Linked DNA regions of Homo sapiens. The protein of the gene in region 2 purifies or fractionates together with the protein of the main gene of each other region. This does not show direct contact. Each region holds a gene or a part of one and is shown on either strand. Other genes may lie near its edges. The genes, in order: CENPF and ESAM.

The links.
Region 1: the proteins of ESAM (region 2) and CENPF purify together in Homo sapiens (affinity purification with mass spectrometry; one large-scale study listed by BioGRID and IntAct). This does not show direct contact.

Annotation. Positions count from the first base shown.
Region 1 is NC_000001.11:214,641,080-214,644,887, reverse strand, and holds part of CENPF (centromere protein F), read right to left. Parts: coding exon 1,564-3,808; intron 332-1,563; coding exon 1-331. UniProt on the Homo sapiens protein: Required for kinetochore function and chromosome segregation in mitosis. Required for kinetochore localization of dynein, LIS1, NDE1 and NDEL1.
Region 2 is NC_000011.10:124,759,210-124,763,577, reverse strand, and holds the start of ESAM (endothelial cell-selective adhesion molecule precursor), read left to right. Parts: upstream 1-1,287; 5' UTR 1,288-1,423; coding exon 1,424-1,493; intron 1,494-4,164; exon of another isoform or gene 4,165-4,368.

The DNA.
Region 1 (3,808 bases), on a different chromosome or scaffold from region 2:
GAAGATTATGGATATCTTCCTGATTCCCCAGGAAATCCATAGGTACCAAAGCATTAGGACCAGAAAATGACAATTCAGAAATGCATTCTGAAGAGCCCTGGGTTTTATCTTCCCCTGGAGGCTCATAATTGGTATCTGGGGACTGTTCCCCAGAGCACTCTCCTGTGGGTTTCACTGCACCAGTCTCAGTTATTTTCTCAATGTCTAGATTGAGGTCCTGCTGAGCATCTTTATCACAAATCTGATGAACATCATGCTTTGGTGTTCTTTCTGTAGTTTCTGAAGTATGTTCTTTTGATATGTCACAGCTCTCATTTCGGCCTTGAATAGCCTGTAATTATAATACATAACAAGCATGCATTTTATTTTTCAAAAAGAATCAAAATAGAATAGATTTAGTTATTACTTTTTAGAAACTGATGCGTGGCCTCTGCTAAACACATCTCTTAAAGTGGTGAATTTCCCACTACATCTTTCTCTCTTCATTCAAATGTTCAACATACTTATACGTTCAGTAAGTGGCCCCTATGGGCAAGACACTGGGGTTAGGCATTTATCTTGAAGACAAACCCTTCGGCTCAATTACAATTTGTAATGTATTTAAATTTCATATTTTTCCCTTGCTAAGAATATTCAGGTAGCCTAAATATGAAATCTCTTTGTAATTATTAAATAAGAGGCTAACAAAATGCTCAGCTTCCACCTTCAGCATTTATGATACTCTTTAATAAGGCAGTAAAGTTTCATAACCAGATTCCCAGTCCAAGGACTTAATCCCCAATCCAGCACTTACTGTACATTATTGGATAAATTACATATTTGAGCCTCACTTTCCTCTCATCTGTAAACTGGGGATCTGCTGTTGCACCTACACCTGCCATCACCTCACCATGACCTGCCTTCTCTACCTCACAGAGATAGACAGAGGAAATCAAGTGACATGCATACACTATATAGCATTATTAATTAAGCTAGCAGGCTAGAAAGGACAAAGTTACAAGCAATTAAACAAATATGTATTCAATTTTTTAAAAGCCCTTTTAAATGACTTATACCAAATCATATTTTTGTACCACAGTAAATTGTTAGAGAGAAAACTGTTTAGTAATACATAAAGAATCTGCTGTATTTAGTTTCATGACGATAATGCCATAACATCAAAAATAGTCTGAAAAGTGGGAGAGATTAAAAATTTACATATTACCATTTGTAAGTTCTTAATTATTTCAGTATACTTTATTAATGCACAAAGGGTGGAAACACACATTCTAAAGACTTTCTGACTCCATAATATAATTTTCTCCAGACTTTAAAAACATCTTTAGTAATATTCTATATAATGCTATGTAAATCTAATCCCTATAGAAATTTATTCCTCAAATAACGTTTACTCATTTTCCTCAAGTTCTGGTTTGTTTTGAAAATATTTTGGTGTATTTTATTTCCTTGAACCCTAAAAATATTTTAACTTAGGTTTAATGTACATTTCAATTAGACAAACATTTACTGAGTGTCCACTAGTCATGTAAACCGAGAAATGGCATTTAAATCCCAGGTACTTACATCTTCTGTGTCGATGCCAAGCAAAGACCGAGAACTTAAGTCCAGACCTTGTAGCTGGAGTCGTGCTACTTCCAGCTCAAGTGACAGTTGTTCCGTCTGTTTCTTTTCTGCCGCCAACTTGGACTCCATCTCCAGAGTCACGCTTGTCAGCTTCTGTTGCCACTGTTCATTTTCTGACAAATACTGCTTCCTAAGGCAGTCAAGCTCTTGCCTTTCAGAACTTAATAACTGCTCGAGCTCTTGAATTTCCTTATTTTTCATAATCCCTTGACTTTCCATTTTCTCTTCTAGCTTCTCGAGGGACTGCCGGTACACCTCACAGAGGGACTCAAGCTCTTCAACACCCTTCGCTGGGGCCGAAGGGGTTTCTTTCCTGGTCAGATTCTCCTCCTGCAGACTGCTGCAAAATACTTCATCTACACTGCACTGGTTTGCTGAAACAGCCCCTTCTAAATTACTCAAAAGAGACATATCTCCTGTCTGTTCTAAAAGAGCTCTGTAAAAGGAGGAGTCTCCCAAACTGCTAAGACTAGAGCTGTCAGGCACACAAGAGGATGACAGGGATGGAACGAGCCCCTCCTCCAAGCCCAGCTGCATCTCCTTCACCAAGTCACCTTGAAAGTTTCTCAGATTCGTTGACAAGACCAAATTTTCGGCCTTTAATGAGTCAACATAGGTCTGCAGCTCTGACATTTTAGAGCTCATCTGACAGTGCTGATCATGTAAAATTTTGTGTTCACTTTGTAAAGATAAGAATTTCTCTTGCAATTCGGCAAAGTGCATTTGAACTTCTTTGTCTGACAATGTCAAGTGCTCGTAGGAATTACTCTCGTCCAATGGAGCCAAAGACACAGGGTGCTGTTCATTTGGTTGTTCACCAAATTCACCTCCTGGTATGTCTTCCACTAACTCACCATGGAGAAGACCACTGTCATCATTTAATATTTTAACTTCATTTAGTAGTTTCCCTACCTCTTCTGCCATTTTCCTAGTTGCTGTGATACATTCTGACCTTGAATCATTCAGCTCAGTTACGAGTTCATACTTTTCAGCCTGCAGTATTTCACATATTTTCTCTAGCTCATTCAGCTTGTTCATTGTTGTTTGCAGAGAGCACTGAAGGTGTGCATTGTCGTTTTGACTTGTTGACAACTCATGAGGCCCTGAAATATACTTTTCTTCCGCATCTATTTCACAGTCTTTAAGGCCACTAATTTCTTGTGACTGCATGTCTTGCAAATTGCTGGTTTCAAGATCTCCTCTAATTGTCTGTAATTCATGCTGCAGGCACTCCTTCTCCTTCTCACTTTCCTGAAGTTTTAATTCCTTATTTCTTAGCATAGCTTCTAATTGCACCAACTGCGCATTATAACTATCTAGAGAAATTTCTTTAACTTCAAGATCCATCTGAGGTTTAAAATTACATTGATTTCTCTCACTCTCTCTTTCTTTCACAGAGTTCCTAATTGGTTCTGATTCTAGATTTTGACATTCATGTTTAGTCTTCATTACCTTCATCAGCTGTTCATTCTCTTGTAATAAGTCATTAACTTCCTTTTGCATTTTGTTTTGTTCTTCCTTTAAAGTCATGATTTCTTGCTTTAAACCACCAGCCTCGCTCTTAGAATTGTTTTGGTTATCTGTCATCTCAGATCTCAGAGCTTGCTGCACTGTCTCCAACTCTAGCATCAGATTCTGATTTCTTTCTTCAGCAAATGCTAATTTTGTTAAGAATTCTTGGTGTTCCTTTGCAAATGCTTCCTTTAGCTGTTCCAACTCATTTTTCCTATTTTCACAAAGACTAGTGCATTCATTTAGCAAGCATTCTAATTTAGAATTCTTTTCCTGTGCTGCTTTGTATTTTTGACTAAGATCCTCATATGCATTTCCGGTTTCTTCACATCTTTGTAGTAAAATAAGTTTTTCTTGCTTGTACTGATCAGATAACTCTGAAATGCTTTTCTCCCTTTCATCTATATAGTTTGCAAAACTCTCACTTTTCTGGATTAAGTTCATCTTCTCTTGATTTAAGGATGCATTAATTTCCTTAAGAGTCCCATTCTCTTGGGTCAGCTCTTCAATTTCCCTTTTATTTAGAGAAATGATGGAACTCATTTCTTTCTTCTCCAAGCTTAGGGTTTCGGATAAAAGTTGTAGCTCCTTTAGAGAGTCTTCAAGTAGATGGTTGCTCTTTTTTAATTCTTGAATCTCTGCCTGCTCAGTTTCTACCTTATCATTTAAAAGT
Region 2 (4,368 bases):
ACTATGTGCAGTAAATGGAATCCCGCAGGCCTGGCTGCTTTTCTTCCCAGACAGCTCTGCCCGCAGAGCGGGCAGCGTCAGGAATTCGTTGTTATGCTTTCTTCCCTCACTGACCTTTGCTGGGTGGTTGAGCTGTGCTGGGATGTTTGAAGCATTTTTTTTTTTTTTTTTTTTTTTTTTTTTTGGCTGTTGGACAGAAAAGCAAGAACAGGTGCGTGCCTTTCTGTAAGGGAGCGGCGGCCGCCAGAGGGCGCAGAGGTGCCTTTTGACCGAATGGCGCGGGAAGGGGGGCGTAAAATTCAATTCACAGCGACCAAGATCTAGTCTCGGGAATTAAAGGATCAGAGCGCGCCTGAGCCTTTCGCTGCGGGGATGGGAGGCACTGAAGATTTGGGGGATAAAGAAGAAACGGAGGGACTGTCCTGTCTTCCTTCCCGCAGCCGCCCCTCCTCCCCAGTCAGCATCAGGCCCGTACGCCGCTCATTTCAGGGGCTAAGCTGGGAGCAGCACGCACGTTGCCTCAGTTTCCTGCTCAGCTCCCGGGACTACCTTGTGCCAACCTTCCCTGCTCGGAGTATGAGGCACAGGCCGGGGTAATCCTCCAGCCTGGGCTGGGGTCTGCTGAACTCGCGGAGCGCTTTTTCCTGCCCGCGGGTGAAGATTCCCCGCTGGCGCGTCCCGGGGCGCCCTGGGCTCCCGCGCGACCTCTGCCGTCGCCCTCGCTGCCGCGCTCCGGTGGCCGCGCAGCCCCCGCCTCCAGGAAAGCCACAGATTCCCGCTGTGCCAGGGAGCCCGCGCGGCCGGCGCTCCGGCCTCTCCCTGCAGCTGGAAAACGCTGCTCCCCTCTTCCTCCTTCAGGAAGACCGCCCTGATTGGGCCGGGGATGCGGCACCCCCAAGTTTGGAGCCAGAGCCCAGGAGCGTTTACATGTCAGGTGTTACGGGTGGTTCTGACTTCGGATAGTCCCCAAATTTCCCACCCTTCCTGGTCACCCTTCCTATCCCACCCCGGCGGAAGGGAAGGTTACGGCTCAGGATAGTTCTGGAGCCTCCTCTTCCCCCTCTACTCGTACCTGGCTGGCTCGTGGGGCATCAGAGCTTACCTCACCCCTCCCTGCGTCCAGACCTGGAGGAGGCCGCAGGGTCCCGCCGTCCGCGCGCTGGGGGCGCCCCCGGGCGGCGGACCCCGCGCGCCCCGCCCGGGAGGACGGCGACCTCTCCGCCCCCTCGAATGCCCCGCCCCGCTGTCGCCGTCGGTCCCCACCCCGCCACCGGCACACAGGCGCGCAGACTTGGGCTGGAGCCGCCCTGGGTGTCAGCGGCTCGGCTCCCGCGCACGCTCCGGCCGTCGCGCAGCCTCGGCACCTGCAGGTCCGTGCGTCCCGCGGCTGGCGCCCCTGACTCCGTCCCGGCCAGGGAGGGCCATGATTTCCCTCCCGGGGCCCCTGGTGACCAACTTGCTGCGGTTTTTGTTCCTGGGGCTGAGTGCCCTCGGTGAGTGAAACCCGGACCTGGAGGGGACTTGGGATGCGGGATGGGGTGAGTTCGACCCTGAGGGAGAACTTTGGCCACTGCTGCGGAACTGGGTCCCACGACTCGCCCTCCTCCCCTGACCTCCTAATCCCACTCCAGGGCATCACTGGCTGGCGCTGACTTCTCGCTTTGTCGGGGACAGCCCCCAGTTTGGGTGTGGGGGCGGATGGCGGGGGGAGGTAAGGGCATCTCTCGGAAGACCTGGATACCTCTGGGGTGAGTTATCGGAACCATTCCTCACCCTGTCCACTCCCCACCCCCCACCCAGCAGAGCCGGATGAGCTGAGCCGCTAGATGAGACACTGGCTAAAGAGCTTAAGGACTTAACTCTAGCCCCCTCTCATCCCCGACCCCACATACAAGCTGATGAGGAAGATCCCCCGGGGAAATACCCCTGGTCCCCAGGCTTGACACACGCACTTCGTGTCAATTCCCCAGCGCAGATGCTCTCTCTTGCCCCCTCCTGCTTCCTGCCCTGGGAATCAAGGGAGGTGCCCCAAAAGGACGACCGTGAGGTCATTTGGGACACAGGAAATGGGGGAGGGGTTCAAACGCACAGAGAAACAGAATTGTGACCACCCCACCCCCCCAAGGCCCACCACCCTTATTGGTTTCCAGAGCCAAAGGGAAGAGGGGAAATTGGGAGGAGGGTGGCCAAGGGTCAGAGAGGAAGGGAACCTCCTTGGAGCAAGTGTTTGGGAAGTGTTGTAGGCCTCCAGGGGCGCTGGCTTCAGCTGAAGCTGGGGTGGCTCAGAACTCCATCTGGGAGAGGACCCGGCAGGACTAGGCCCTTTTAAACTATTTCACTTGCTGTCCCTCAGCTTTCTTGCCATCTCCCTTCAAGGATCTCGAATGGGAGTGAAGGGTGGGTTTAGCTATATTGACTTTAACTCATTTCTCAGGTTGGAGGATGTCAGGACAAGTAAGGCCTGGGAAGCTGTAGAGTGAAATTCTACAATGATGGGGACAGAGATGAGGATCACCAGTGTCCCCTTTAGCATGTTCTGTGCCCCACAGGTGTCGGGGCATGCAATATTATAGTCCTTGGACAAAATGAGTCTCAAGTACAGCCCCCCAGGCCACACCAAGGCCACAAGTAGCCTTCTGTCCCTCTGGGCTTGGTGGGCCTGCTCCAGGATCCCTCAGACTTCTCATCCCGCCTTTCCCAACTTCAACTTCAGCTCTGTTCCTTCTGCATTCCACCCCAACTCTATCCCCCTTCCTTGTGGGGGGTGGGGGCTGGGGGAATCTCTGAAGCCAGGGAGGACAGTTCAAGTTGACTGCCTGAGTGTCCCAGGCTTCACCTGCTGCTCATCTGCAACCCTTTGTCCTACCCCAGCTTTGAGCCTCAGTTTGTCAGACTGAAGACCTGGACTCAAAAGTTCCAATCGGTCCCCCTGGGGGGTTGCCCAGTTCCCGCCAGCCACTCGAGGGTTAAATGGCACTGGTGACCCCGGTGCAACGTGCAGGCGCCCGGCTCCGCTCTTCTGGGCTCTGGAGGAGGCTCTCCGGCTCAGTAGGCTCCTCGGCGGCTCAGTGCTGCTGCCCCTGGGGCGTGAGAAGCCCGCGGGGGGAGTTTCTCAGAGAAAGAGGGAGACTAAAAATAGCCCCGGGGAGCGGGCCCATTTCGCTCTCCTTCGGCCCCTGCCGGCTCCCTCACTCTGGCCTCGGAGAGGGCTGTGGGCCGGAAGGGTCCCTTTCTTGGGCTGTCCCAGTGTCCTTCGATCAGACCCAACCAGACTCCTTTTCTCTCCCAGTGGCTCCGTGGACCCTGGGACCGAAAAAAACGGACCAGTTGGTGACTTCCGAGCCAGCAGACACCCAGGAGGGAGAGCAGAAAAGCCTCAGGCCCTCTTCTGTTCCTAGTTTCTGACAGGGCGAAGGGCAAGGAGCATGTGCCCAGACCCCAGTGTGTCCGTTACTATCTCTTTTAACTCTCCTCTACCTTCTGGAAAGTGGAATTATAAATGTGGGACCTGGGGAGGTCGCTGGTGGTCCACAAGGTGAAGGAAGGGCGCGCCCCTTCTGGGCCCCAGGCAGTTTCCCGGCGGAAACCCTTTCTGGCCGCCGGGTGTGTGTCGTAGAAAGGCTGGGGGAGAGCCGGCAGCACCTGCAGGCTCCAGGCGTGCCCGGCCTCAGCGGAATGGCCAGCGGGCCGGGTCCCCAGGGGGCGTCCAGCTCCTTGAGGCGGGGATTGTTTCCTCCCGTAGAGCCTCCGGTCTAGTGGCCCCCCCTTCATTGTCTTCTGCCTTATCACTGGGTACAAATTTCCTGCCCAGACCACAGAGATCCTCCAGGAAATGGGAAGGGGGATGCTGCGAAGGCCAAGTAACAGAGGTGGGGGTTCTGTACGGCGCAGCCGGGAAGCGGTGGGGGAGGCTTGCATCCTGGCCGGATCGGCTCCCAGCCCTTAGAGGCCTTCAGCCTGGCTCTCCTAGGGCGAGGGTGGAGAGCGGGGCCTGGCTGCGGCCTCTTCCCGCGGCGTTGGCCGCCTGCTCGCCACGCGGAGGTGGCGTCTTCCGCTCCGAGGCAGAGGGCCGAGGCCTGGAGGGAGTAGGGCCCGGGACTGGAGCGGCGATCATCCTCAGGCCTGGCCGTGTGCAAGCCCAAGGTTATTCCCCAAAGGGCTTACCAGTTGGCTGCTCTGTTGCCTCCCCGAAGGGCAAAGGATGAGTATTTCTGGACGCCGTGGTGCAAACGATGGCCCCCTCCTTGAAACCAACACCCCGGTCCACCCCCTGAGCGCCGGACACACTCAGGGGAGGCTTCATACTTGTCTAGAGACCGTCGTTCGCGCTGCCCTTAATTCCTTGCCACCCGAGAGTTCTCTGCCCAG